7 separate regions of the Homo sapiens genome follow, and regions 2, 3, 4, 5, 6 and 7 are each reported to be linked to region 1. The links are microRNA targets in miRTarBase. Many come from high-throughput screens and were not tested one by one. Region 1 holds a microRNA gene; each other region holds the end of a gene's coding sequence. Distances are between the middles of the regions.

Region 1 (4,066 bases):
GTAGGGTTTTGCCATGCTGCCCAGGCTTCTCTCGAACTCCCAGGCTCAAGTGATCTGCCTGCCTTAGCCTCCCAAAGTGCTGTGATTACAGGCGGGAGCCACTGTGCCCAGGGCAACCCTGTTTTTTTTTTTTTTTTTTTAAATCAACTTTTATTTTGATTAAATTGCAGCTTAGTTACATGTGAACCTTTGATGACACTGAGGCTTGTGGCCACTGACCCCGTCACCCAGGCAGTGAGCAAAGTGCCCGTCAGGTGGTTCTTCCGCCCACACTCCCTTTCTGCCTCCTTTTTTCCATCTGATAGTCCCCAGTGTCTATTGTTTCCATCTTTATGTTCGAGTGTATTCACTGTTTAGCTCCCACTCATAAGTGAGAACATGCAGTATTTGGTTTTCTGTTCTTGCCTTGGTTTGCTAAACATAATAATCCCCAGGTCTATCCATGCTGCTTAGGACATGATTGTGTGTTTTACTTATGGCTGCGTAGTATTTTTTGGTGTGTATGCGCCACATTAAAAAATCAAATCCACTGTTGCTGGTCATCTAGGATGCTTCCACATCTTTGTTCTTGTGAATGGCACGACCATGAATGCACGAGAGCATGTGTCTTTTTGATAGAAGGATTTATTGTCTTTTGGGTAGATACTAAGTAGTGGAATTGCTGGGTCTGATGGTAGTTCTGTTTTAAGTTCTTTGAGAATCTCTACACTGCTTTCCACAGTGTGAACCTGTTTTCACGTTCCCCAAGGTAGGAGCGTTCCCTTTCCTTTCCTGCCTCGCCAGCATGTTGTTTTGCTTTTGGAAAAATGGCCATTCTGACCAGCGTGAGATGGTATCTCATTGTGTTTGTGAGTTGCATTTCACTGATGATTAGTGAGGTAGTGCATTTTTTCATGTCAGTTGGTCACTTGAACGTCTTCTTTTTCTTTATTTTTATTTTTTATTTTTTGAGACAGTGTCTCACTCTGTTGCCCAGACTGGAGTGCAGTGGCGTGATCTTGGCTCACTGCAACCTCCGCCTCCCAGGTTCAAGTGATTCTTCTGCCTCAGCCTCCTGAGTAGCTGGGATTACAGGTGCCTGCCACTATGCCTAGCTAATTTTTGTGTATTTTAGTAGAGACGGGGTTTCACCATGTTGGCCAGGCTGGTCTTGAAGTCCTGACCTCGTGATTTGCCCGCCTCGGCCTCTCAAAGTGCTGGGATTAAAGGCATGAGCCACCATGCCTGACCAATTTTTTGTATTTTTAGTAGAGATAGAGTTTCACTGGTCTCGAACTCCTGATCTCAGGTGATCTGCCCACCTCAGCTTCCCAGAGTGCTGGGATTATAGGCATAAGCCACAGTGCCCAGCCCCTTGACAACTGTTTTGTAAGGAACCATTGCCTGAAGTAGAATTGCTGGATCAAGACTACTTTTCCAAAAGAGGATAATAAACATGATCTCCTCTTTTGTTAATGACTTAGATCATTCCTCTGAAAAGCCATTATTGCACATTGCTGAAATGTTCGCCTCTGCACTGGTTGGTCCCAGAATGCTAATCATTTTGAGATTTGTGCCTTCTTTCTTCTATTTTCTGCTTTCTTCTATTAGCCATGCCCGACCTGAAAGCCATCCCTTCCTCTTTAATGTACTATTTTTCTTCTAATGTGGATCTACAAAAACAGAGTTTGGGCAGAGTCTAACAACAGGAACAAGAGAAGAAACAGATCCAAAGAGAGGGGCTTTGGGCCCAGAGATGTTCTAGAGTCAGTTCTCAGTGGTGAAGGCTGACTGTGCATCTCTCTTCCTAACTTCACTTGCAGCCGTGTCGTATTGATAGCTTGAAATCTGCCACAGTGGGAGCATTTACACCATGGAAATTGGCAAACGCTGCAAATCAAGAGTGTTAATTTTCGTTTTGTTTTTTGAGAGTTGGCTATTAACTTACCAGCATACTATTGGCTTTAGTGCATGGCGTCTATATATTGGTATTTGTTGCTGGGCCGTTATTTAGACTGCCTTCTTATTTCTTAACTGTGTTCCAGGTGGGTAAAGGCAGCATAGCACTGAGTTCTAGATAACTGAGGGGATTTTGCACTTGGATTTGCTGTGCTAAGGTTTGGGTGGGGCTATTACATCTTGCCGGGCTGGGCAAGAGTGAACCCTAGGGGTCAACATCAGTAGCCAGGATTCTGCCATAGGAAGCTTGGAGTGGAACTGACCTGCCCCCTTTCTCTCTGACTCCATGGCAGCTGGGTGAGCTATGAACAGGCCAACTGCAAGGGCGAGCAGTTTGTGTTTGAGAAGGGCGAGTACGCCCACTGGGACTGGTGGACCAGCAGCCAGAGGACAGACTCAGCAGCCTGAGGCCCATCAAAGTGGTGAGCCCCCTGCCATCATCCTACTTTCTCTCTCTGCCACCTTGGAGCAGGAGGTCCTGGGACCAGGAAGGAGCCCGCCCCTCTAGCATTGTGCCCCTTCTGATTGGTGAGGAACCTCCTCACTGGGTGACCTTGCAAAAGTCATTTTACTTCCCTGAGCCTCAGTTTCTTCATCTGTAAAATGGGCATATTGGTATCTACTGTCCTGAGGTTCCAATGTGCTTATTAGCTTGAGGGTTGTCACACTGCAACTCCAGAAGGCTCCAATCACAAGACTATGAAATGCTCCAGAGGGCACTATTCACATTCTATTTTAGGTGGTTGGTGCCCGCCCCCCGCGCCCAAGGGTTGGGCAACTCCCGTCATTGCTCAATAACCAATAGCCATCAGAAATACTACAAGAAATTATGAGTTTGGGGCTGGAGGAGAAGGTGGTTTAGCTCTTCTTCAAGACTCGTGCCAGTGTGAGTTTTCAGTGCTTCTGAGATCCTGATTCTTACTAGTGTGTGAGAGTGTCAACTCTCAGGAAGGGGACAGGGCCCATCACTGCTCAGTTACACTCTCAAACCCTCCAAGCCCAGTCTAGCTCCTCCCAGGACCTACTGGAAGGTTGGAGAACACTGGACTTTGCACCCCACAGACCTGGGTTCCCAAGTTGGCTGTGCTGCTCCCAGCTGTGTGGCCTTGAGCACGTCATTTGACCTCTCTGTGCCGCACTTTCCTCATCTGCTAAATGGCATAAGAGGATTTTATGTCTGAGGGATAAGGGTTTTATGTGTAAAGGATGAGATGAGATAACTAAGGAAAATGTCATAGGGACAGGAGGATGGGAAGAGATGTAGAAATGAAGAAAAATCAAAGTATCTCAGGTGCCTATTAGAGGCACAGTTAGCCTGTGCATGTGTGTGTGTACATGTGTGGGTGTGCATGTGTGTGCACGTGTGTGTGTGCAAGTGTGCACGTGTGTGCACACATGTGTGGGTGTGCATGTGTGTGTACATGTGTGGGTGTGCACGTGTGCGCGCGCGTGTGTGTGTGCAAGTGTGCGTGTGTGCCTGTATGTGTGCACGCTTGTGTGGGTGTGCGTGTGTGTGTATGTGTGGGTGTTCATATGTGGGTGGGTAGGTAGATCGTAGCCACCATTTATAAAAGAGAAACTTGAGGAGGAAAAAATGACATTTCAGAATCAAACATTCCCCAAAGTGTTGCAGAGTGTCTGTTACATGAAAATGGCCCAGTAGAAACTTAACAAACGGCTGTGATCCAACAGCAGTGGTCATAGACACGTAGTGGGTGCATTGGGAAGAGAGTGATGTGTGGGACATGCTGATCCCAACTCTGGGGCATGAGCATGGGGTGGGAAGGCCAACCCTGGGCCCCCTCACCCATACTCACTTCCCCCCATCCTCTGCCAATAGGACAGCCAAGAGCACAAGATCATCCTCTATGAAAACCCCAACTTCACCGGGAAGAAGATGGAAATCATAGATGACGATGTACCCAGCTTCCACGCCCATGGCTACCAGGAGAAGGTGTCATCTGTGTGGGTGCGGAGTGGCATGTAAGTGCATTGCCAGCCCTGGCTCACCCTGCCCCAGGAACTGAGACTCTGGGGTCCTAAGTCCTGCTCTGCCCTGTACACACTGGTGATCTTGCACACATCAATGTGCTCTGCTGACCTCTGGCTTCCCACTGGAAAGTAAATG
Region 2 (4,066 bases), not on the chromosome of region 1:
TGGGATCTTGTCTCAAAAAAAAAAAAGTGTTCAGCCAGGCATGGTGGTACACACTTGTAGTCCCAGCTACTCAGGAGGCTGAGACAGGAGGACTGCTTGAGCCCAGGAGTTCAAAGCCAGCCTGGGCAACATAGTGAGACCCCCCCACCCAGCTCTTAAGAAAAAAAAAACACACATAACCTATTAAAGTTGAATGGGAACAGACCATGAGTATAGGTAAATTGTCATGTTTGGGGCCCTTTGATGCCAAAACCTGGATGCATTTAAGAATCCCTGGGCCAAGCCTGCTCCTAACACTAGAGAATTGAATTCCCAAAGGAGAGGAAGGAATAAAAGGTTCGGGGCACCATGCAAAGTGCTTTATGTATCTTGTCTCATTAAATGACCATAATCCTCTGTGAAGGACAGATTATTCCCATTTTACAGATGAGGAAGCTGAGACTGAGTTTAAGTAATTGCATTCAGTTCCAGGATAGGTGATGAGAAGGTGACTCCCAAGTGGAGCAGGGAGACCCAGTGGATTTCAGGCTCCCCTCAGCCCTGTAACCTGGCATCAGGATCTGAGGGCTGGTCTGAAGTCTGCCCTCGGGTGAGCGTGTCAGTGCCCCCTCAGACCATCCCAGCTCAAGTCCACTGCCCACCATGTGCCAACCCCCCCGCAAGCCTGGGACCCCTAAGCAACAAACCCTACATTGTTCCCCCAGCTGGCCCAGGCTGCGAGGACAGTGGCTCTTTCCCAAGGCCGCTGGCCTGCTGACTGATTCTGCAAGCCATTCACGTTGGCAGGCTTGGGAGGTGGCGGTGGCAGAGCCTTGGAGCCACCATCTCTCCCCCTTCATCTCTGAGCCGGCCAACCAGCAGGAGGGAGAGGTGGAGGGCACCCTTTGTGGAGGAGGACCCCTAAACAGGATGTTGAGGGGTCTGACTCCCCTGCCCTGGACTTCACCTCAGTTCACCCGGCCCCTTCCTGCATCCCTTAGGAAGCTGGTGGTACTTCCGGGCCTGGCAGGGGGGTGGAGAAGGAGTTGGGGAAATGCCGAGGAAACGGTCCCCAAGAGCTTCAGCACGACAGGCCTGCCTTTGGTCCCCTCTCCAACCTGCTCCCCCACCCATCTGAAGTTTCTACAGACAGAGCTGGGGGCTTCAGTCACCGTGGCAACAGGTCTGCTGAGAAACGGGTGGGTGTCACTCCCCAGCACAAAGGGTGTGTGCATGGCGGCGCCATCACCTAGCAACGGCCTCCCTCTCTCTTGGCGGCATCACCCGCCCTGGGGGTGGGTGCCAGGGAGAGAGAACAAGGCCGTTAAGATCCCCAGGAGAGGGGGAGGGAAGCTTGGGTACAGGGCAGGCTGAGGCCAAGGGGTGTGGGTGGGTGGACAGAGGAGAATGGAGCCCCAGGCGCTTGGAAACCCTGCCCCTGCCCATCCCTGGGCCCCCGGGGCCCTTCCTGAGGCCCCATGTGGATGCTGTAGGTAGGCCTGGTGGGCAGAAGTCTGGTGGGACCCAGGACAGAGCTTCAGACAGGGGGGGTGGTTCTGAGGAAAGCTGAGCTCCCAGGCGGGGAGCGACTGGTGGCCTGGCTGAGGCATCACTTCTGGTTGATGCTGTGCCAGCTTCCCAGGGACCTACAAGGCTAAGGGTGCCCTCTGGAAGGGACCAGAGGTGGGGCTGGGGGAAGTGGCACTTCAAGGGCAAGACCCCACAGGAGAAGCTGCATGAAGGGTCTGCCGGGGGCAGTGGGAGCTCTGGCGGGAAGGGTGGTGCAGTGGGGGCTGGGTGGGGGCAGGCCAGGGCAGGCAGCTGGGCCGTCTACAGGCAAAACAGTCCATTCTAAGAAACTGAACAAGAGCAGCTCTCAGAGTGACAAAGGCTGGGAAGCCCTGGGGCTCACAGAGGAAAGACCACTGGACTCCCTCCAAGGGGGGCTTTGTGGAGAGAGGGCATAGCAGAGATGAAGGCTCCAGAGGAGATATTTTCCAGGCTTTTGACTTCCCAAGGAGCATGGGGTTTAGGCCAGGATGAGGACTTAGGTCCTCCGGCTCCCCAAGCCCTCCATCCTCTCTGTCCCTCAAAAGCCATAAAACCCTTGGAGTCGCCAGGGCCACAAGGCTGTTCTGAACATCGGCCACAAGGCTGTTCTGAACATCAGCCACAGGCCAGGCCAGGTCAGGAGAAATTCTCCTAGGCACTGCCAGGCCAGGAAGGCCCAGCTGCATCTGGGCCCTGCCAGAATGTGGCACAAGAAAGTGGATGGGCATAGGGGTAGTTCTACCTAGTTTATTGTTTCTCAAGAAGGGCCTCCTATGGGAAAGCACCTAACAAGGAGGTTGGGACAGGGCAACCCAGGGATCCCAAAGAAAGGAGGAGGAAGGAGAGAGAAATCCTCTGGAAGAAAAGAAGGCACCAGTAGGAGGAGGCATCCAGGACTGGGACAGATCTGGTCCAGAGAAGAGTGTACTGGGGCTGGGCGTGGCAGCTCACACCTGTAATCCCAGCACTTTGGGAGGCCAAGGCAGGCAGATCACTTGAGGTCAGGAGTTCAACACCAGCCTGGCCAACATGGTGAAACCCCGCCTCTTCTACAAATACAAAAATTAGCCGGGTGTGTTGGTGCACACCTGTAATCCCAGCTACTCAGGAGGCTGAGGCAGGAGAATCGCTTGAACCCAGGAGGCGGAGGTTGCAGGGAGCTGACATCAGGCAAATGTACTCCAGCCTGGGCAACAGAGCAAGACTCCATCTCAAAAAAAAAAAAAAAAAAAAAGAAGAGTGTGGTGAGCCACACTGGGCTGGCCCCAAGGAGCCCCCATTCCAAGATGGGGCCCCAGGTTGGTGGTAGGAGGATGATGCCTGGGAAGGGCACAACTAAAGTATGGTCAGGTTCCAAGGCAGAGAGAGAGAAGAGAGACTGGAACCAAGGGAGGGCAGGCAAAGTTCTGGCTCCCAGCTGCTGGGACTCAGAGTTTCTGGGCAGTTCTAAGGACCTAGAAGCATCACCGCCCACCAGTGGAAAGGACAGGGTTGGAAGGCCCCACAAGGGACAGGAAAGGCCCTGTGTGGGGAGGGGGCTTTGACATTCCCAAACCTTGACAAGAGGAACCAAGTCCATCCCTAGACAGCAAGACAGGCAACAAAGCAAGACCTATGGGGAAAGAACAGCAGACACCGGCGGGGGTGGCGGCCTCTCCCTCCCTCCCCACCCCTACTGGGGCCTCAGCAAGGTGTGCCCAGGGGCAGGAGTGGGGGTGACTCCCTGGGCTTGTGGAAGTAGATGGAAGAGGACACCTCGGTCTTGAGCTTGTTGTCCGACCCATTGGCAGCAGAGGCCTCCGAAGCCCCGCCGCACTCCTCACAGCAGCAGCAGCAGCAGCAGTCCAGGAAGGCCTGGCCCAGCGGCCTGCAGATGCAAAGGAGCAGCACTGGGGTGATGGCGCCCTTGAAGAAGGTGGAGAACTGGTTGATGAGGCCCAGGAGGTCCAGGGTCTGGCGGGTCAGCTCGGTGGAGAGGTAGGCCACCACGATGTTGCAGACGTTCTCTGGGAGGGTGCAGAAGGCGTAGACCACGGTCAGGCCCACCACGGTGCTGTTGAGCTGGCTCTCACACTGCTCGTGCTTGCTGGCCCTGCACTCTGACTTCCTCCCTGGAGGGCCTCGCACCCGCCATGTCACCAGCTGGCAGGTGACTGTGAAGAGGATGGGCAGGCAGAAGTAGCAGCCAAAGTACCACCACATGCGGGCGTTCTGGTAGGTCATCACCAGTGAATACAGGGACTCGGGCAGGCTGGCTGAGGGTTTCATGATGCATGAGTCCAGGGTGCCCATGGTGGGGGCAGGCTCCTGTGCCAGCTGCCACAGCAGGAGCTCAGGCACAGCCAGCGTCATGGAGCCCACCCAGATGACAGCCAACTTGGCCAGGATGGATTGGCACCGCTCGATGGGCCTCACCTTGGGCAGGGTGCTGGTGGCCACGTGGAAGCGGTCAATGCCCAGGGCACAGAGGCTGAAAGTCGTGACTCCCAGAGAGGAGACCTGTGGGCAGGATGTGAGGGAAGAGAGAAGCACTTGG
Region 3 (4,066 bases), not on the chromosome of region 1:
TACTTAAAAAAGCAAAACAAAACAAAATAACAAAAGACAACACTGAGTATAAAGTTTCATAAATTTGAATTTAATTAATTAAAAATTTTAGGTAACTCACATAGGGCTAAGCTTAAATATATATTCTCTGACTTTAAAGCTTAAGGTTTTATCAATGACCGTCATTGGTTTGGATTTTAATAAACTCATTTTAAAACTTTTCAAGAATCAAAATGAAAATTAACAAATATTGATGTAATCATCATATACTACTATTATCTATTCATCAAGAGTAAAACCTACTTTCCAACAATCTAGTTCAAAAATAAAGTAAAAATAATTTCTCTCTCTTCACCCAGAGATAACCACTCCTAATATTTTTGGTTTATTTTCCTTAGTTTTTTTCAGTATGTACACATAAAATACATTTTCTAAAATGTGGATCATATTCTATGTATCACACAATTTGCGAGCCATTTCCAATTCAATAGATGAAATTTTTTGTCATATTCTTGATTGTCTGCTATTTCATTGTATAGGTGTGCCATAATTTATTTCATCAATCTCATGTTATTGGATTATTGGACTATATTTTTACTCTTTATTAGAAAATTGACAATACCTTTAGGATAAATTCTTAGAGAATTACTAGATCAAAGAATATGTGGTGTGTGTGTGTGCGTGTGTGTGTGTGTGTTTCCAATGTCCTCAGCATTACAGGGGTATTATTGTAATTTCTACTTCTTTGTTAATATGGTAAGTGAAAAATAGTATCTCTTTGTTTTAACTTACATTCTTCAAATATTAGAAAATTGGGATCTGGGTGCGGTGACTCACACCTGTAATCCCAGCACTTTCGGGGGGCGAGCTGGGCATATCGCTTGAGCTTAGGAGTTCCAGACCAGCCTAGGCAACATAGCGAAACCCCATCTCTACAAAAAATCCAAAAAAAAAAAAAAAAAAAAAAGCCCAGCATAGTGGCGCATGCTGTGATCCCAGCTACTTGGAAGGCTGAGGTGGGAGGATGGCTTGAGCCAGGGGAGTGGAAGCTGCAGTGAGCCGAGATCACACCACTGCACTCCAGACTAAGTGACAGAGTGAGACCCTGTCTAAAAAAAAAGAAAAATCGAAAAACAGTTTATGACCTATTGTAGTCATTTTGTGAATTGCTTTTTCATACCGTTAGTCCCTTCTGATATTACAGTCTTTCTCCTATTTTGAAAATAGCTTCACCAGTTTGTCTTTTGGCTTTGCTTAAGGGTTTTTATCATACAGAAGTATTTTGGGGATTTTGTTGTTGTTGTTTCATTGTATCAATCCTTTCCTATATAATTTCTTCTTTTAAGTTCTACTTAGAACGTTTTTTTCTTAACCCAAGGTTATACAAATACTTACCTATACATTCTGGTACAAAATATAAAGTACATATTCAAGTGTATATAAGAATTTAAAATAGCAATTCATTCAACCATTTATTCATTCATGCATATTCATTCACGTAAATTGAGCACATGTACACTAAGAACTGTTCTAAGTGGGGATAAAGCTGTGAACAAGACTACCAGGGTTCTTGCTCTCATAAAGTTATTATTCCAGAAGGAATATGACATAGCATATAATTTAATGTGAGCTTTCCAATCAATGAGGGAAAGAATGGATTATTCAGTATACAATGCTGTTACAACTAGTTAACCATTAGGAAAAGAAGTAAGATTATTTTATACCTAACATCAAGTGTATTACAAATGGATTTAAAAACTATATTTTAAAAATAAAACCATTTGAAAATAGTACAAAAAACATAAATGAATATTATATAAAGAAACAGGTACATTCCTAAACATGAAAACTTTACAGCAAGATTTCAAGGCAACTCTGGAAGTGACATTATTTTTAATGGAATAAAACAAGGTAATTTTTGAACAATAATCTTTATTAGTGTATTTTTAAAGGTACATATAATCCTGAGCTACAGCATTTATACATTTGTCATTTACTCTTTGAAGTGTACATGTATTTTGCTTCAAATTCTGTGATGAGTACGTTTTTATACTAATCAGTATCATAAATAATTTAAAATATTAGTCTTATCTCTGGAATCACCAATCAATTTACTCAGATGATCTCACTGTCTAATTCTACTACATTTAAAGACTGTAGAACATTTGTGATTAAGCAATTTCTTTTTCAAAACTGCAAAGATGGGCAGTGCGAGAGCTGATTCCATAAATTTCAATGAATTCTTAGAAAATTATGTTGTTCTTTATTTCTGATCTATTTTCTTGAATAATTTGGGTAATTATCTGATCAGTTACCTTTGAGAAGAATAGTAAAAGTACCTCTAATCTCAACATTTTAGCTACTGTAAAATGTCATAAGCTTCCTTCAAATATAAGTAGTACATAATTACCTCAATAAGAAAAATTTACCATGATCTAAGGGAAAGGGGCACAACCCAATGTAAATATATCTTTGGATAAATGGTTAAGTATTATAAAACATGTTATGTGAAATACTTCCTCAAGCCTCTATAAAGGAATACATAGAGCTGATAAACATTAAATTCCATAATCCAGACCAGATCTTTTATAAATGGTAAATAAAAAGGCAAAAATGAAAGACAAAAGTCCTGTGATCTTTGAGAAAAGACATTTATCCAACATCTCCAACTGTGGACAAATAAATATTCGTTCTTGTATTTTAAATTACTACCAAAATATTTTATCTTTCTACAAACAACAAAAAACAAGCAAACAGTATCTAGAAATTTTTTTTCCTCTGACAAGAATGTCAAGTCTTTGAAGTTACACTAAATTTTTTTTTTTTTCCTGAATAAGGTCACTATAATCTTAGGTTAAAGTTACAGTAAGCAGTTCAAGCAAAATGCATATTGCTTAGGTTTTAAGCAAGCAATTTTGATACTGTTTAATTAAAATGTAAATATAAATGTGAAACTATTATAGAAATATTTATAAACACTTAGGAATACTCATGTATCAGCAAGTAATGAAATAACTTATTTAAAAATAATAAAAGGGTGAGAGTAAATGTAATGTTTGGTAACAAATCCAAAAATATCTATAAGAGATGTAAAAGAACATGAAAAGGCTTTATTATTCAAATTTTGAAAACCTAGCAGCAAAACAATTTGCATATAATATAGTGCAATGAGCATTTGTTCATAAAAGACTCCCAAAGTCTTGAAACGATTATACATAAACCAGAATGGAATCCATTAGGATAAATAATTTAAAGATGTCCAGAGTAGCTTACCAAGAACTGCTAGACACTCTCACCTGCATTACTGAATCATAAACAAGCTTATGCAAAACTGTGTTCTGGATAACTGACTCTTATGGCTCCCCAATAACAAGCTCGGATAAGGCAGATCAATCCTAGGAGATAAGCAATTGCCCAAGAAACATAGGTTGCTCGAAATCGCCTTGCAAAATCTGGGGTGCCAACCTAAAATAAAAAGCAATATAAAAACAAAATATTAGAAACTTTAAAAAATATCTGCTTAGGGAACTTGTATCAGCTTACATGTGATTGTTATGAAATATACCCCCAGACCGAATACACAAAGTCCTTATAAGAGTAGGTGTATCTGTTGACTGCAACTGATAGACCATACTGCTACTTGTAGTAACTATAAATGTTATGAAGTAAACAAAAAAGCACACTAAACTATATTATCTCTACAAGGAATTTAATCCATGTAACTTCTTACTATCATGGGACACAATAGGACATTGCTAATAATAAGGGACTAGTTGTACTGACAAACAAAGGAGCATGGAAATGGCAGCCAAAGAGATTATCTTCCTCTTCTGGCATAATCCCCATGCTAACTGCTTAGCTCCAGTCTTCTCTAAAAACAAGCCATCCTCATATTGGTAATAAATCTCTGCTTGATTTGGATAAAGAGAAGAGTGGTTTTTTTAGATCTCTGTAGCTGAATGAATATTGCTTTGAATAATAAGAGACCCCATAGCCATAAAAATTAGTTCTGGCACTGATTTTTTTTTAAATGGGCTTTTGCTAAATAGATGATAAAATCCCCAACAGTAAGGACTTTTGGAGGTAA
Region 4 (4,066 bases), not on the chromosome of region 1:
CCATATGCCTGTGAACATGCATCAGTATATGCTTGTGTTTTTGTTCGTGTACATGTATTTGCATGTGTAAGTGTTCATTGTGTGGGCCCATATGTAACTGTCTGGTGCGTGTGTGTGTGCATGTGTGTGCCTGTACCTGGAGAAAGGGGCAGAGGGCTTGGTTCTACTGCGGTTTCTCATTCTGTAGCCTCACTCTGCTGCCTTCACTGAAGGACACCTCTGGGTCTAAGCGTCCTATCTGGGTAGGGGCTGGGGGCGGTCCCTGGACACCATGGAGCATGAGCAGTAGGTGACTTGGCACACCTATGGGGGCTCTTCCTGCCACAGATTTAATCTTCTCTTTCTCTCCTCCTAACCTTTCTCCCTTCTCTTCCTCTTCCTCTCTTCCTTATTCTTTCCTTTTCTCCTGCCTCCCTCCCCTCCTCTTCCTCTCTTTCACCCCTCCTCCCCTCCCCTCTCTCCCCAACCTGTATCTCCCTGTCACAACCCTGTTTGAGGAAGGGGTGAGTCCTCTCCTCCCCCTAGCTTCGCTTCCCCCATATTGCTCTGGTGCAAGTTCTAAGTGAGCCCTTCTGTAAAGTTCACACATGCCCAGAAAGCATTCAGGGACCCGCCAGAGATGAGGTCCACCTTGCAAATTCTCTCTTGGCCTCTAAAATCCGTTACAGTTAGGGCACCATAGAGAAGTAGAAACACAACCCAATACATGGGTTTGAATCTCAGCTTTGCCACTTCCCAGCTGTGTGACTTTGGGCCAGTCCCTCAACCTCTCTGAGTACCCTGAGGGGGCCAATAATACCTACCCTGATACACGTCCAAGGATTCAGCTGCAAGGATATTCTGATGTGGTTTAAAGTGGTGAAACGTTGGAAACAAACCCAAATATCCAATAATAGACTTGGTTAAAAATAAAACAAAAACCATAAAAGGATGGCTCAGCCATTGAAGAGAACTTTAAGCAGTGACTACACAGAATGACATAGCTCTGTCTATGAAGATCAGTTTATACATCTGGAAGCTATTGCTGAGTGAACCAGAGCAGATGACCACATATTGAGTATAGGGTATGATCTCTAGTTTCAAAATGAAAAAACAAAACAAAACAAAACAAACAAACAAAAAAACAAACAAAAAAACAAGAAAAGAAAAAAGAAGTCTGAAAGAAAATGCATCATCTAGATTTCCATAGTGCTTGAGATTCTGGGTGGTGACATTTTCTTCCTTTTGTTTATCTGAGATTTCTAAATTTTCCACAAGCAAGTAGCATTGGTCTGATAAAGATGAATGTGCAGTAAGGAAAGAAAAGAAAAAGGCAAGGCACATTGCATGATTCTTGTGAGGAACACATAAAGAAGAAGGGCAGAAGAGTGGGGCTCTGAGCGTGCGCCTGTCCCATGGCGGTCTGTTCCCCACCTTCCCCTGCTGCAGCTACAATGGGCCGCTTCACTCACCCCGAGCTTGGGTGAAAAGTGATCCCAATGCAGGACACTCTTCTATTTATTTTTACCTCCCTCTCCTGCTTTTCTTTTCTTTTTCTTTTATCCTTTCTTCCTTCCTTCCTTCCTTCCTTTCTTTTTCTTTTTTCCCTTCTTTCTTTTTCTCTTTCTTTCTCTTTCTTTCTTTCTTTCTTTCTTTCTTTCTTTCTTTCTTTCTTTCTTTCTTTCTTTCCTTTCTTTCTCTCTTTTTTTGAGACAGTCTTGCTCTGTCGTCCAGGCTGGAGTGCAGTAATGTAGTACCAGCTTACTGCAACCTCCGCTTCCCGGGTTCAGGCGATTCTCCTGCCTCAGCCTCCCAAGTATCTGGGATTACAGGTGCCTGCCACCATGCCTGGCTAATTTTTGTATTTTTAGTAGAGAGAGGGTTTCACCATGTTGGCCAGGCTGGTCTTGAACTCCTGATCTCAGGTGATCCACCCACCTCAGCTTCCCAAAGTGCTGGGATTACAGACATTCGAGTTGGAAGGGAATGTAGGAAGCACTCTCTCCAACCCCTGCTTTTGCAAGTAGGGAAACTGAGTCAAAGAAGGAGAGTGACTTGTTTTAGGTAGTGGCCTCAGGCCTCCTAAATCTCACTGGACACTCTTTCCCTCATGCCTTTACCTAAAGACAAGCATGCACTGCATAAGATTTGCAGAGCACAACAGCCTCACTTTGGGGAGGAGGCGCACTTCAGTCCTAACATAGCCTTGCAGATAACCAGCATCAGCTTACCAGCCTGCTCTTTTTTTGGGCCACCAGAAATTACATGGGGGAATAGTTAGGAGTGAAGTTCTAATTCTTTTGATGTGCTGGCAACAAACAAATCACACATTCATTCATTCATCAAACATTCTGAAGACCTACTATATGCTGGGCAGGCCTGTGTTAGAGCAGGGTATTACATAAAGCATGGGGAGATACGGTGCCTGGCACGTAGTAGCTGTCGAAAGAGGACAGTCACTTTCATGAACCTGGGAGTCACTAGAAGAGCTCCCCCTTTGGGTGAGCAGAGGTTTTTGCACCCATCAAGGGTTTAATGTCAGAGACCAGAACCAGGGAAAGGAATGGTTTCATTCTCTCTGAGTCGTTATCAAGGTAGGGACAAAAAAAGAAAACCACACAGCGCTGAGGGAAAAAAGATTTTTTTTTATTAATCTTTCTCTTTAAAAAAAGTTGATTTTTTTTGTTTTTGTTTTTTGTTTTTTTTAGGTAAACCTCTTTCTGCTTCCCCTCCGTCACTCTGCCCTACCTCCTCTTAAAAATATAAAAATGTCCAACCCCGGATAACTAGAGTACAATAAATAAACAGTAAACACAAAAACATACTTTATTTGTTTCTTCTTTATACAAAATAAGGAAACTAGAAGCGTTCAACTTCCAAAAAAGTATAATATTGTACATCCTGACGGCCCAGCCTCCAGGCCCTGGGCAGGGAGGGTGGTCTGTGGGTCTGAGCCCAGCAATCCTGGCGCCCCACCCAGGGGGAGAGCAGGATGTGTGCGTGTTCGAGTCCGGCCTGCTCCCTCGGGCTCAACATAAACGTCAAAGTAAGGAAGAGCGGGAGCTGGACCCGGCTGGCCACTTCCTGACCCACAGCCCTATTCCTAGAGAAGCTGACCTTGAGCCTCAAGATTGGCCACCAGGGAGCGCCAGCGTGCAGGTGGCTCGGTCTCCCTCTCGGTGGCTCCCGGTTCACGCGAGTTCCTCGCTCGCTCTCCGTCTTCTCCCTCTGGCTGACGCTGTCTCTCCATCTCCTCCTCATCTTGCCCCCTTTCCTCTCCCTCTCTTTCAATCTCTCTCCTTTTCTTATCATCTTTTTTTTTAAAGACGGGGAAAGCACAGCGAGAAATAAGATTACAAAATGCCACTCGGATTGCAGAGAGAGGGAAAAACACCGTCTCCGCCCCTTGGCCTCACCCTCTCTCAGTCCAAAGAGGTGGCGGTGGCTGGGTGGGTGGGTGGGGGCCCGGGGAAAGTCTAGAGCGTGCTCGAAATCTCTTGACCCTCCGGAGTATTGACTTTGGTCCCAAGAAATTGCTCGCGGTTGCTGGGAGAGTACTGGCGGTGGGCTGAGGCTCCTGGAGAGCCCGCGGGGTGGAGATGGGGGTCGGCCCCCCCTCGGCGCCCAGCCGAGGAGCAGCTGCCAGTTGAGTGCGGACCCGAGAGAGAACCCCCGAGGGACACCCACGTCTCCCACCGCGTCTGCGTCGGGCGTTTTGGTTTCAGGAGGCTGCTTCGGGGCGGGGCCCCCGGGGGCCGAGCGCGGGGGGCGGCCCGGCGGCCTTACCACACGGCGGCTTCGTTGAGCTCGGGGTTGGGATGCGACAGGGGTCCGCTGTAGCCGCTGGTGCCGCTCATTGGGAAGGGCGGGCTGGGCCCGCCGCTGAATACCTCGCCGGGCATGGGGTGCAGCGTGCCCGGCAGGCCTGGCTCGGGGCTCGGTGTGTCCGGGTGCGAGATCATGTCGGTGAACCTGGGGTTGTCCGCGGCGTGCGGGCCGGCGAGCGGCGGTTCCAGCGCTCCCAGCGGCGTCGAGCCGGGGCCAGAGGCCGCCAGGAAGCTGGAGTCGGCCGGGGACTGCGCCTGCG
Region 5 (4,066 bases), 4.3 Mb from region 1:
TTCTCTAGGTCATGGTGTGTGGCCCAGAATAGCACCTGGTCAGTAAGATCTTTCAGCATTGCTGTTTGTTCCACAATCACTGGGTGGCCTCCTGGCACCAGGCCTGGCCCTGCGCCTTGGGGTACAAATACACCTTACCCCTATCCCCTGGTCTACATCCTCTGGGGACTCCAGTCCTAAGTGGAAGACAGATGAGCTCCTGCCTGAATTTTGGCGGCGGCTGCATGGCACTCTCTGCTGTGGATGTGGATGTGCATGTGTACTTTTTTTTTTTTTTTTTTTTTTTGAGAAGGAGTCTCGCTCTGTCGCCCAGGCTGGAGTGCAGTGGCGCGATCTCGGCTCACTGCAAGCTCCACCTCCTTAGTCCACGTCATTCTCCTGCCTCAGCCTCCCAAGTAGCTGGGACTACAGGTGCCCCCCACCACACCCGGCTAATTTTTTTTTGTACTTTTAGTAGAGACGGGGTTTCACCATGTTAGCCAGGATGGTCTCGATCTCCTGATCTCGTGATCCACCCGCCTTGGCCTCCCAAAGCGCTGGGATTACAGGCGTGAGTCACTGCGCCCGGCCAATGTGCACGTGTACTTAATCAGTCCCCCACAGCTGGACATGAAGGCTACTTCCATTGTCTCACGGCTATTGCTGTAACTCAATGGCTGCCCACAACCCTGCTATTTCCTTGGGCTCAGTTCCTAGAGGTGAGGTTGCTGGTTCAAAGGGTCTGCATGTTTTTGAGGCTCTGCCTTCCAGAAAGGTCTTGTATAGGCAGCTGGGGTGATGGGAGTTCAAAGTGCTCAAAGGTTCAAAGTACTTCGAAGCCTGAGAAGGGCCATGCGGCCCTGGAGAAGCAGCATGCGTGGGGCCCAAGGCCAGAAGGATCTGAGTATGGGACAGGTGGAAGAATGGTTGGGGGGCCATCGCTGGGCCTTGGCAGGGTGCCCCGGGCTGGGCACGGAGGATGCCTCTCCTAGGGCAAGTACTTACATGGACCCCAAGTTCCAGGGGAGGTGGCTCGGGGTGGACGTTGAGGAGGAGGACAGTGAGTAGCATGAGAAATTAGGCTTTAAAAAAAAATTTAGACAATGTTTTTTTCTGATTTCAAAGGCTTGTGTGCTCGTAAAACTTTTGAGAAATATAAAGGAGTAAAAAAGTCACCCATAATGGCACCACTCAGATAGGACCACTGTTAACATTTTGCTGTGTCTTCCAGGATTTTTTTATGCATTTATATATTTTATATATTTTTAAACAAAAATAGTATCATGCTATATACATTATTTTATAAGCTGCTTTTTCTCCCTATCACACAGTATGTCTTTCCTCATCAGTGCATATAAATCTGCCTTAATTCTTACACAGGCCGCATGGCATTCTCTGCTGTGGACGTGCATATGTATTGAATCAGTCCCCCACAGGTGGACACGAAGGTTATTCCCATTGTCTCGCAGCTCAATGTCTGCCTGCAACCCCGCTATTTCCTTGGGCTCAGTTCCTAGAGGTGAGGTCGCTGGCTCAAACGGTCTGCCTATTTTCGAGGCTCTGCCTTCCAGAAAAGTCATGCAGGCAGCTGACCCTCCCCACAGCCAGGGTGGTGAGGCAGGTGGGCTGGGGGTGGCATAAGCCTGGGCTGTAGTGCACTCTTATTCTCCCCGCTTCTCTCTCTCTCTCTAGGGCTGAACCCATCAGAACCACTGTCTTCCAGTACCCCGTGGGCTGGCCACCAGTTCAGGAGCTGCCTCCATCCCTGCGGGCACCCCCACCTGGGGGGTGGCCTCTGCAGCCCAGAGTCCAGTGGGGCTGAGCCCCTTGCCCCCGACTGACCCCCACGTGGTCACTTTTCTCATCAGTCACAATAGGAAGCCAAGCCCGGTTCCTGCTACGCCCCATGGAGGCTCCGAGACCATCTGCCCAGCCTCACTGAGGCTCAGGACACGGCCACACCAAGTGCAGCCCTCGTCCTGGGTCTGCACCGGGCAGCTCTCCCCTCACTCTCCTCCACCTGCCCCCCTGCTTCTTAAGAAGATGGGGGAGAAAACTTCCAAATGTTTATAAAGAAAGTCTGTCACCACAGTGGTCTGGCTGTGTTTCCCTACACTGGGTGCTCTGAGCTCTGTTCTCCAGCCCCTAGCAGAGGTCGGGCAAGGAGGGAATCAGATGAGATTTTCCCCAGGTGACCCACGCTCACTCCCTTCTCCCTTGGGACCAGCAGAGGTTCAGCACGGCCAGGCAGAGGGTGTGCCAGGGTGGCTGTGCCCGTTGCCTGGTAAGAAGTGGCTCTAGGCCCAAGGAGCCCAAGGGCTCCATCTGCCATCCCCGCCCTGGAAGAATCCACAGCCCCCATGTCTGCCCATGCTGAGCTGCTGCCCAAGTATTTGGGATGGCACAGCTGGGGCATGGGAGCGGGGTCTCCAACCTTGAGGGCGTAGAGAAGTGGGAGGACAGGAGGGCAGGCCCTGGGCTGAGAGAGTGGCCTGGCGCAGCCTCTTGGCACTGACAGTGTGGGGCTGTGCCAGTTTCTTGGCCCAGGAGGTAGTACAGGGGCCCTCCCAAAGTTCAGCCCTGGAGGAGCCCCCTGGCTGGAGGCTGCTCAGAGCCTTCAGGCCCCAGCTCTGCCTCCTTCCTCAGCTGGACTACAGTTCTAGGCTCTAGGCTGGGGTGGTGGACAATGTGGCCTTGGTAGCTGGGCCTCTGGTGGGAGGGCCAGAAGGTGGGGGGCTGCAGGGCCACCTCAGATGCCCATCCTCCACGAGCTTCTGCCTTTCCTGAAAATCCCTGTGGAAGGAAGAACTGAGGCCAAGTCTCGGGGCCCTGAGCCTCGGGTTCCTCACCTGTGAAATGGGCTGGCCCAGCAGGTACATGGAGAAAAGGGGGTCTGGGTTGGGGTCCAACGAGGGTCAGAGGAAGGGGCCCAAGGAGAAGACCAGGGGCCTCCTCAGGCTATGCCAGGCAGCAAGGCCCAGGACACCCTGGCTTCCCACCCTCCCCCAGGAGAAGGCTTTCTGTCCCTGCCTGTGCCCTGTGCCCTGGGCAGACCTCAGGGACCAGGGCTGGGTTGGCTGTGTGGCCCCAGATAGGCTGCTGTCTCAAGGCACAGGGTGCCCGCTCCTGCCCAAGGGACCACAGCAGCGACTGGGTCCTGGGGGTTCCTGTGCAAATCCCTCCTTAATTTCCCAGGAGCCCCTGGATGGTAGGAAGAGTGAGTGCTCCTTACAGGCCAGGGTGGGGACAGGGTGGGGCTGGGGACCATCCTCAGAGCCACCACCCGGCCCTCCACAGCCAGGCCACAGCTCCAGGTGAGGACCGTGGGTGGGTGGGGAGGGCTCGCTGGATACCCAGGCCCTGAAGTACACGCAGATGGCGGCCCAGGGAGCCGGCCAAGGGAGAGGTCTGCAGGCGGCGGTGGTGTGGGGCGGGCCACGGGCACCGCATGCGGTGGATGGGGCATCCAGGTGGCGTCTACTTCATGCCACTGCGCAGCACCTGGTTGGCCGCAATGAGCATGACACTGATGATGAAGGCGATGGCGAAGGCGCAGATGAGACTCTTGCGCACGCAAGTCTGGCGGATCTGCTGGTTGGAGCAGGCTGTGGCCGCCCGCCGGGAGCACCGGGGAGACAGAAGGGGACATCAAAGCGATGGAGTCAGGAGCCGCCTGCCCTTCGGCACATGGGCTCATCCCATGGGGTGCCCCAATGGGACAGAGGCTTAGGACAGGCAAGGAGGCCCCCAGCCCCCCTCTGCAGACTCTCCCCACCCCGTGCGTCCCCCTGGCCAAGTCACTGGGCCCACCCGTGGGGTTCCAGGGCCAGCCACTCACTCTCCACATCCACGGGACACTCCTCGGCTGTGCCCAGGTGGCTCTCCTCCTCCGTCATGATGATGTTCTCTATGTCCTTCATGGACAGGTGCTCGCAGAAGGTGTCGTAGAGCAGCCGCTTCAGCTCATCCACCGTCAGCTTCTGCATGTCGCACTTGCGGAGGGGGACAACACGGTGCTCTGAGAGCCACCGCAGCCCCCACCCAGCACCCCACGGCCATACAGACCCGGTGACAGGCCTCTAGATTC
Region 6 (4,066 bases), not on the chromosome of region 1:
ATGCAATTGGAACCTCAAATGATGGCCACCTTTTACCAGGGACCCTTAGATAGGCCTCTGAGGGAGATCTCACTGCTATTTTCCCAAAACAGTGCCCCCATCAGCAGGAACCAGTTAAGATCGATCACTACCCTTATCCTTATCCTTATTCTAAGTTAGATGTACTTCTTTAGAGGGGGGAATGATAGAATCAGGAGACAGCCAAATGCTGCCCAGGTCATTGTGCACAGGGGGATTGCCTAAACATGCCCATGATGAAAAATTCCGTTCCTTAACACATACACAGTAAGGGAAATAATGTGGAGTGGCTCAGACTAAGGGCCTGCCTGCACACTGGGAGAACGGGGTGTAGCCACCAGGAATTCATGCAGGGGGAGAAGACTAGGCTCTTCAGCTCATGTGTGGTGGCCTGGTATTCAGTTTAGTGAGATGGAAAACCTGCATGCAGGACCCCTCTTTTTGTTGAGAGTTTTCCTTTTCACTTAATAAATTCTGCCCTCCTCACTTTTCAATGTGTCCCTGTGACTAATTTTTCCTGGTCATGAGACAAGAACCCAGATTTTAGCTGAACTAAGGAGCAAAAATTCCTGCACTAATGGTATGACTTAAAGCATCACTTAGTAGTATGCATGAAATTAACCTTAGGTCATGAGAGCCACCTATTTATTATTTTCATTTTTTTGAGATGGAGTTTCACTCTTGTTGCCCAGGCTGGAGTGCAATGGCACAATCTCGGCTCACTGCAACCTCCACCTCCCAGATTCAAGCAATTCTCCTGCCTCAGCCTCCTGAGTAGCTGAGATTACTGGCATGTGCCACCACACCTGGCTAATTTTGTATTTTTAGTAGAGACGGGGTCTCTCTATGTTGGTCAGGCTGGTCTTGAACTCCCAATCTCAGGTGATCTGCCCACCTTGGCCTCCCAAAGTGATGGGATTACAGGCGTAAGCCACTGCACCCAGCAAAAGCCACCTATTTAGATGCTCAACTTCCAAGCAACTGAGATGAGATAAAACTGAGAAGCTTATGAGACTACTGAGCAAGAGGAAAAGGTGACACTGAGGAGCTGTATGAGAAAACAGTGATTTCAAACACAAAACAGTATTAGTGTGGCTAAGTTGCAAATAACAGAAAACTCAACTCTAACTCGTTTGACAGATGTTTATTGGCTCACATAGCTGAAAAGTTCTGAGGTAGCTCTGCTTCAGGTAAAGCTTGGTCTAGTGGCTCAAAAGATGTCACCAAGGACCTAGTTTCTCTCTGTTTAGTCACTGTTTTCTTTGGTATTGGCTTTATCCTTAGGCTCCATATGGTAGCACCTGGAAGCTTGAGAATCTCCCCTTTTAACAGAAAAAAAAAGTTGCTATAATTCTAGGTCTCACATTTTCCTATGTGCCACACAGAGGACAGATAATATCTCCTCTGGTAGCTCTCGATGAAGAAAAGCCTCTCTTTTCCAGAAGAGCCAGTATCTCCTCATATCACAATGGCTCTGTGGCCAAGGGGATGGGATAAACTGATTGACACAAGCCAAACAGGGTCCACTCATGAAGATGGTGGTGGTGCCAAACCACATAGCTGAGAAAGGATAGCTTCCCAAAGAATACCCGGGTAACTGTTCCCAGAGAGAAGGGGAAGAGATGATGGAAACCAATAAAAGATGACCACGTCTAAAAATGTTGTTTTATAAAACTCCTGATTTCAAGTAGAATTAGTTAATTCTATAATTCTTTACTTTCCTGTGTAGACGCTACATGTTCCTCGTGTTTGTTTTATCTTTGGTCCTGGACCTAGGGAGGGCATTTCTGGCTCTGATGCCAATACTGGATTATGTGAAAACTTTTCAACTATTGACTGGATGAAGCTATCTAACAAAGCATTAACCACCACCAGAAAGTGACCATTTCTCCCTCCCTTGGCAGTGGCCTCACAGCTTATCAGAATGTAGACTATCATGGTAGTGAGGGATGGACAGACTGGAAGAGGATTTAGGATAGGAAGCAATGAGAGGGCTGGAACTATATAAATTTTTATGAAAAAAAATCTCCAGTTGAGTTTACATATTCCCAATCCCAGAATGATATCTCATAAAACAAAGGCAATGAGGTCTCTTAAGACCTGGATTGGCCAGGCGTGGTAGCTGAGGCCTGTAATCCCAGCACTTTGGGAGGCCGAGACAGGTGGATCACAAGGTCAGGAGATCGAGACCAGCCTGGCTAACATGGTGAAACCCCGTCTCTACTAAAAATAAAAAATATTAGCCAGGCATGGTGGCGGGCACCTGTAGTCCCAGCTACTTGGGAGGCTGAGGCAGAAGAATGGCATGAACCCAGGAGGTGGAGCTTGCAGTGAGCTGAGATAGCACCACTGCACTCCAGCCAGAGCAACAGAGTGAGACTCTGTCTAAAAAAAAAAAAAAAAAAAAAAAGACCTGGATTACCCTCTGCTGTTTCCCTAAATTACTTTGGTGGCCTCAAAAGGAAAGCAACTTCTGAAGAAAAGGTCTTAGAGTTCACAATTTAACTGCAATGTTGCTTCCATCAAATAAGGTTTTCAGTGAGACAGAATTATGAAAAGCAATACTAATAAACACTTGTATACAAAGAGTATCTACAGAGATACACAACCAGTAGCAGTGATTGCCTCTGGGGAGAACTCAAGAGATAGGAATGACAAGGAAATTTACTTTTCACTGAACACCCTTTTCAACTATTTCAATTCTTTTTTATCATGAGCATGTTATATCTAGTCAAAGATTAATGTTTCAGGATTTGAAAAACATAAAAGAAATGTACTGTTGGTCCTCAGAGTCATTTAGCTGGGGTTAAGATTAAAAGACATGAGACTATTAGAAAAATATAAGATGGCACATAATTAAATACTAACTTGGGTGGTACTGATTACAAGTAGAAGAGGAAGAGAGATCTTCTTAGTTGAAGGAGCTAGATCTGAGTGATGAAGGGAAACTAAAAGCACAGGAAAATAAGCAAATAAAAATGGGCAGAGACATAAATATGTACAATTAAGTAAAGAACAGTAAACTCTGCAGTCAGATAGGCCTGGCTCCAATTTCAACTCTATAACTTACTAACTGAGCAACCCTGAATGAGTTTTATAACCTCTTTCAACTCAGATTTCTCATTTGTAAAATGGGGAGAAGAGCACCTACCTTAATAGGATTGTTATGCAAATTAATGTATGTAAAGTGGTTAGCACCTGATACAGAGTAGCTGCCCAACTAAATGATGCCTTGTTAAAACATCATAGAACAGAGGGACCAGTCTTGCTAGAGTACATGGTAAATGTTCAAAAGGGCAAGATAATACTGGCTATTTAAGTTAAGGGTTACAGCAAATTGTGAATGGTCATCTCATTTTGTCTCTAGGGTTCCTGCAGCATAAGAATTATAAACAAGTATCACCATTATGCACTCTCTAATGTTCAAGAAGGTGAGAGATCTGACAGTTATAGGGTTTGTCTCTAGCATGGCGCCTCTGGTGCTTAATTAAGACAGAATTCTGACTGAAGGCCTTCCCACAGTCATTACATTTATAGGGTCTTTCCCCAGTATGGATTCTTTGATGTCGAATAAGATGTGCCTTGCAAAAGAAGCTTTTCCCACAGTCAGTACATTCATGAGGCTTGTCCCCAGTGTGGACCCTCTGGTGCTGAGAAAGATCTGAGTTCCACATGAAGCCCTTCCCACAGTCCTTACATTCGTAAGGCTTCTCCCCAGTGTGCATTCTCTGATGTCGAAGAAGGGCTGGGTTTCGAGTAAAGCTTTTCCCACATTCCTTACATGTGTATGGTTTCTCACCAGTGTGGATCCGTTGATGTTGCGTAAGGCTTGTGTTCTGACTAAAGCCCTTCCCACATTCCTTACATTCAAAGGGTTTCTCTCCAGTATGTATTCTCTGGTGACGAATCAGGTTTGACTTCCAAACAAAGGCCTTAGCACATTCTTGACATTCATAGGGTTTCACCCCACTGTGAATTCTCTGATGTGCAATGCAATGTGATCGAAAACTGAAAGCCTTCCCACATTCCTTACATCCATAGACCTTCT
Region 7 (4,066 bases), not on the chromosome of region 1:
GACAATGTAGATATACTTCAAATCATCATGCTTTACAGAACACACATTTCATCTGTCCAGTTAAGAAATGTATTTTTAAAACATTATAGAAGGATAACAATGTTTCAAATATTGTGTCTTCATCATTAATTTTGCTGAATAGTATCCAAAATATATGGTTTTTGTGCTGTTTTTTTCGCATTATTTTTCAGCCACAACACAACCATAGGTACTCTGATATTTAACAGCATGTTCTGGACACAGCACAGTGTATGAGAGGAGCCAATGTAGTTTAGGGCTTCTAAGCTTGGGGCACCTGGAGTTTCTGGTGCTGATGGTAATGGTATGATAGACAGTAAATGGGCAGGTGATGTTTATTGTCCCATGACTGTGAACACAGTAAACAAGCTTGCATGCAAAATAATAGGAAATGTTTTAATCCACAAGTTGCCAAAATTTCCAAAATTCTTCAGAGAAAATGACCAAGGAGTTGGCTATACTTAGATGACTCAGAATAAAAACTGTAGATTGGGCCAGGTGCGGGGGCTCACGCCTGTTATCAGCATTTTGGGAAGCTGAGGCAGGTGGATCATGAGGTCAGCAGTTCGAGACCAGCCTGCCCAATATGGGGAAACCCTGGTCTCTACTAAAAATACAAAAATTAGCTGGGTGTGGTGGCGCATGCCTGTAATCCTAGCTACCTGGAAGGCTGAGGCAGGAGAATCACTTGAACCTGGGAGGCGGAGGTTGCAGTGAGCCGAGGTTGGGCCACTGCACTCCAGCCTGGGCAACAGAGCAAAACTCTTTCTCAAAAACAAAAAAAAACTGTAGACTGAACTTCACCCACTGAAAAAAAGTTATATGAACTGGAAATTTCTTCAAATTGTAATATCAGTATGGAAAAGAAATATTATCTCAAATTTCAAATTCACAGAGGTCACTTTATTATTTTGCCATGTTTAACATTCACTCTTAAAGTAGAAGATTCTGCATAGAAATTAAGTTACACTACATTACAGAAAAGTAAATTTAAAATTCTTTACTTACCATTAGAACTCCTAAAATTTTGATTTCTAAAATATATTCTCTAGCAAATTTTGTATTTGCTACACGTTGTATAAAAATCTAGGCCAGGCGCAGTGGCTCACGCCTGTAATCCCAGCACTTTGGAAGGCCGAGATGGGCGGATCATGAGGTCAGGAGATCGAGCCCCTCCTGGCTAACACGGTGAAACCCCGTCTCTACTAAAAATACAAAAAATTAGCTGGGCGTGTTGGCGGGCGCCTGTAGTCCCAGCTACTCAGGACACTGAGGAAGGAGAATGGCGTGAATGTGGGAGGCGGAGCTTGCAGTGAGCCGAGATCGTGCCACTGCACTCCAGCCTGGGGGACACAGCGAGACACTGTCTCAAAAAAAAAAAAAAAAATTAAACAGATTTCAACAAGAAAAAATAATAAAAATTTAACCTACGGAAACAGTATTTTTTAAACTTATTTGCAGTTGAAAGCCACTGGCAAAGGAGATTACCAGAGATGTTAGTTGATTACATTACCAAATAGTATATTCTTACTATCATTTACCTACACCTTTGAGTAAATGGGATAGGTTTCAGTTAGTGGCATAATAATGCTTCATTGAATGCACAATAGTATTAACATGTTAAAAATGTATAATGAAACAAGTTCACACATCATCTGAAAATTTAAAAATGTACTGCATTTTATTACATAAAAGTACAAATAGTAAAATAACGTACTAATTTTTTAATTTTAACAAAACTTAAATGTTCTTACTATAATGCAAAAGAATATTACTCTAAACACCTACCTCATGCACCACTCAATATCATAATTAACCACAAATACCATCTCCACTTAGATTTTCATCATGCATGTTACATTTTAATGTCCTTACTCTTCCAAAGAAAAGGTCATAAATAATGCCCACCTAAAAAAAAAGAAACTCTCCTATCTTTGATGCCGTGACAACTGATCACATGCTTTCACATGTGAATACAATAGAAATGAAGAAATAGCATCAAGTAACTAGAGAGTTGAATCACAGCAATATTAGCTTTTTAAAAAATCTGTACTTCTTTTCAAGGAAAAAAGAACACTTTGGGCCGGGCGCTGTGGCTTAAGCCTGTAATCACAGCACTTTGGGAAGCCAAGCTGGGCAGAGCATGAGGTCAGGAGTTCAAGACTACCCTGACCAATATGGTGAAACCCCGTCCCTACTAAAAATACAAAAGTCAGCCGGACGTGGTGGTGTGCACCTGTAATCTCAGCTACTCAGTAGGCTGAGGCAGGAGAATTGCTTGAACCCAGGAGGCAGAGGTTGCAGCGAGCTGAGATTGTGCCACTGCACTCCAGCCTGGACGACAGAGAGAGACTCTGTCTCAAGGAAAACAAACAAACAAAAAAAGTATACTTTGAATGTAATTACAAACTTCCAAAAAATCTTCTACTCCTTTTAAAGTTATGTACAAATAAATTTATCTACCGTTAGTTTGGGATCATTTTTAACAGTCAGCACTTTGATATAGTGTAATGTCTGAAGCATCCATACCTTAGTTTGTTTGTTTTTGAGATGGAGTCTCACTCTGTCACCCGGCTGGAGTGCAGTGGTGCAATCTCGGCTCACTACAACCTCTGCCTCCTGGGTTCAACGGATTTTCCTGCCTCAGCGTCCCAAGTAGCTGAGACTACAGGCACGTGCCGCCACGCCCAGCTAATTTTTGTATTTTTAGTAGAGACAGGGTTTTACCATGTTGACCAGGATGGTCTCAATCTGTTGACCTCATGATCTGCCCACCTCAGCCTCCCAAAGTGCTGGCATTACAGGCGTGAGCCACCATGCCCGGCCCTACCTTAGATATTTCCACTGTGAATTCTCTGATATTTACATAGACTTATTTTGGATTAAATGTTTTAAATATATACTGCATCTGCAAAAATATATCTCAGTATGAACCCTCTGGTGTTGTCTAAGTTGTAGTTTTGGAAAACTTTTTTTTCAAATTTATTACATTTGCAGGGTTTTTCTCCAATCTGAATTCCCTGATGTTGAACAAAGTTTAAGTAACTGCTTCAGGGTTTTCTCTAGTACAAAATGTGTACAATAAGATCTGTGATACAAATAAAGGTATTACAATCCTCTTTTATTTGTAATGTTTGTCTTCAAAATAAATACTTTAAAAGCTTATATTTTCTGAAATACTTTTTGACAGTAATTAAATTTATAATACTTTTTTTAAGTACTCTCTGATGTTGAGTAAGATGTGAGCAGACATTAATGGCTTTTTCACAGTCTTTATATTGGTACAATTTTTCTCAAGTATAAATGCTTTCCTGGCAATAAGGTGTGAGTATTCATTAAAAATTTTGCCACATTCTTCACACTTGTAAGAGTTTTTCTAGTAAGAATTATCTTACCTACAATCAAGTGTGACAATCATTTAAAGATTTTGTCACATTTTTCGCATTTTTAAAGTTCCTCACCAGTATGATTTATTTTATGTTTAGAAAAGTTTGAGGTGTTGTCAGAATTACTGTGATGTCTTCCAGCTTTGTAGTTTCTCTCCAGTTTAAGTTTTTTTATGTTTAGTAAGATTTAGGGACCAGTTAAATGCTTTGCCACATTCTTTACATTTGTAGGGTTTCTCTCTAGTATGAATTATCTTTTGTTTCATAAGGATTAAGAGCCAGTTAAAGGCTTTGCCACATTTATCACATTTGTAGGATTTCTCTCCAGTATGAATTATCTTGTGTTTTAATAAAAGTTGAAAATACACTAAAGGATTTGACACATTATTTACATTTGTAGGGTTTCTCTTTGGTATGAATTCTCTTATGTTTAGTAAGGTTTGGGGACTGGTTAAAGGCTTTGCCACATTCTTCACATTTGTAGGGTTTCTCTCCAGTATGAATTATCTTATGTTTCATAAGGGTTGAGGACTGGTTAAAAGCTTTGCCACATTCTTTACATTTGTAGGGTTTCTCTCCAGTATGAATTATCTTATGTGTAGTAAGATGAGAGGACAGAATAAAGCTTTTGCCACATTCTTCACACTTATAGGGTTTCTCTC

The links. The annotated mature microRNA hsa-miR-6817-3p reads UCUCUCUGACUCCAUGGCA and lies in region 1 at 2,212-2,230, shown strand. An mRNA with a match to its seed (bases 2 to 7 or 8) in the 3' UTR can be bound and repressed. Matches are read on the target gene's strand: a 7mer-m8 pairs with bases 2 to 8, a 7mer-A1 pairs with bases 2 to 7 and ends in A, and an 8mer does both.
Region 2: miRTarBase lists GPR37L1 as a target of hsa-miR-6817-3p. Seed matches in the 3' UTR shown: 7mer-m8 at 2,058-2,064 and 7mer-A1 at 1,245-1,251.
Region 3: the mRNA of PIP4P2 is a reported target of hsa-miR-6817-3p. The part of its 3' UTR that is shown has no 7-base or 8-base seed match.
Region 4: miRTarBase lists LHX5 as a target of hsa-miR-6817-3p. Seed matches in the 3' UTR shown: 7mer-A1 at 3,271-3,277.
Region 5: the mRNA of CABP7 is a reported target of hsa-miR-6817-3p. Seed matches in the 3' UTR shown: 7mer-A1 at 1,663-1,669, 7mer-A1 at 1,661-1,667, 7mer-A1 at 1,659-1,665, 7mer-A1 at 1,657-1,663 and 7mer-A1 at 1,655-1,661.
Region 6: miRTarBase lists ZNF662 as a target of hsa-miR-6817-3p. Seed matches in the 3' UTR shown: 8mer at 1,256-1,263 and 7mer-A1 at 858-864.
Region 7: the mRNA of ZNF708 is a reported target of hsa-miR-6817-3p. Seed matches in the 3' UTR shown: 7mer-A1 at 3,640-3,646 and 7mer-m8 at 3,239-3,245.

What each region holds. Positions count from the first base shown.
Region 1 is chr22:25,453,481-25,457,546 of GRCh38, forward strand. It overlaps MIR6817 (microRNA 6817), which reads left to right and starts at 2,166; the gene lies at 2,166-2,231. It also overlaps the pseudogene CRYBB2P1. RefSeq lists an enhancer at 2,233-2,336.
Region 2 is chr1:202,127,704-202,131,769 of GRCh38, reverse strand. GPR37L1 (G protein-coupled receptor 37 like 1) reads right to left here. Exons shown (of 2, transcript NM_004767.5): 2 at 1-4,029. The coding sequence ends at 3,214. Among named protein-coding and RNA genes, the nearest start is that of GPR37L1, 6.8 kb to the right of the region's middle. RefSeq lists enhancers at 320-1,103, 1,104-1,887.
Region 3 is chr8:90,992,377-90,996,442 of GRCh38, forward strand. PIP4P2 (phosphatidylinositol-4,5-bisphosphate 4-phosphatase 2) reads right to left here. Exons shown (of 7, transcript NM_018710.3): 7 at 1,426-3,444. The coding sequence ends at 3,301. Among named protein-coding and RNA genes, the nearest start is that of C8orf88, 9.2 kb to the left of the region's middle.
Region 4 is chr12:113,459,429-113,463,494 of GRCh38, forward strand. It overlaps LHX5 (LIM homeobox 5), which reads right to left. Exons shown (of 5, transcript NM_022363.3): 5 at 2,605-4,066. The coding sequence ends at 3,762. Among named protein-coding and RNA genes, the nearest start is that of LHX5, 10 kb to the right of the region's middle.
Region 5 is chr22:29,728,960-29,733,025 of GRCh38, reverse strand. It overlaps CABP7 (calcium binding protein 7), which reads right to left. Exons shown (of 5, transcript NM_182527.3): 4 at 3,818-3,971; 5 at 1,193-3,584. The coding sequence ends at 3,457. It overlaps ZMAT5 (zinc finger matrin-type 5), which reads left to right. Exons shown (of 6, transcript NM_001003692.2): 6 at 1,672-2,070. The coding sequence ends at 1,801. Among named protein-coding and RNA genes, the nearest start is that of CABP7, 11 kb to the right of the region's middle.
Region 6 is chr3:42,914,723-42,918,788 of GRCh38, reverse strand. ZNF662 (zinc finger protein 662) reads right to left here. Exons shown (of 5, transcript NM_207404.4): 5 at 1-4,066. The coding sequence ends at 3,435. Among named protein-coding and RNA genes, the nearest start is that of ZNF662, 11 kb to the right of the region's middle.
Region 7 is chr19:21,289,486-21,293,551 of GRCh38, forward strand. ZNF708 (zinc finger protein 708) reads right to left here. Exons shown (of 4, transcript NM_021269.3): 4 at 1,675-4,066. The coding sequence ends at 3,789. It also overlaps the pseudogene COX16P1 and the pseudogene VN1R83P. Among named protein-coding and RNA genes, the nearest start is that of ZNF708, 38 kb to the right of the region's middle.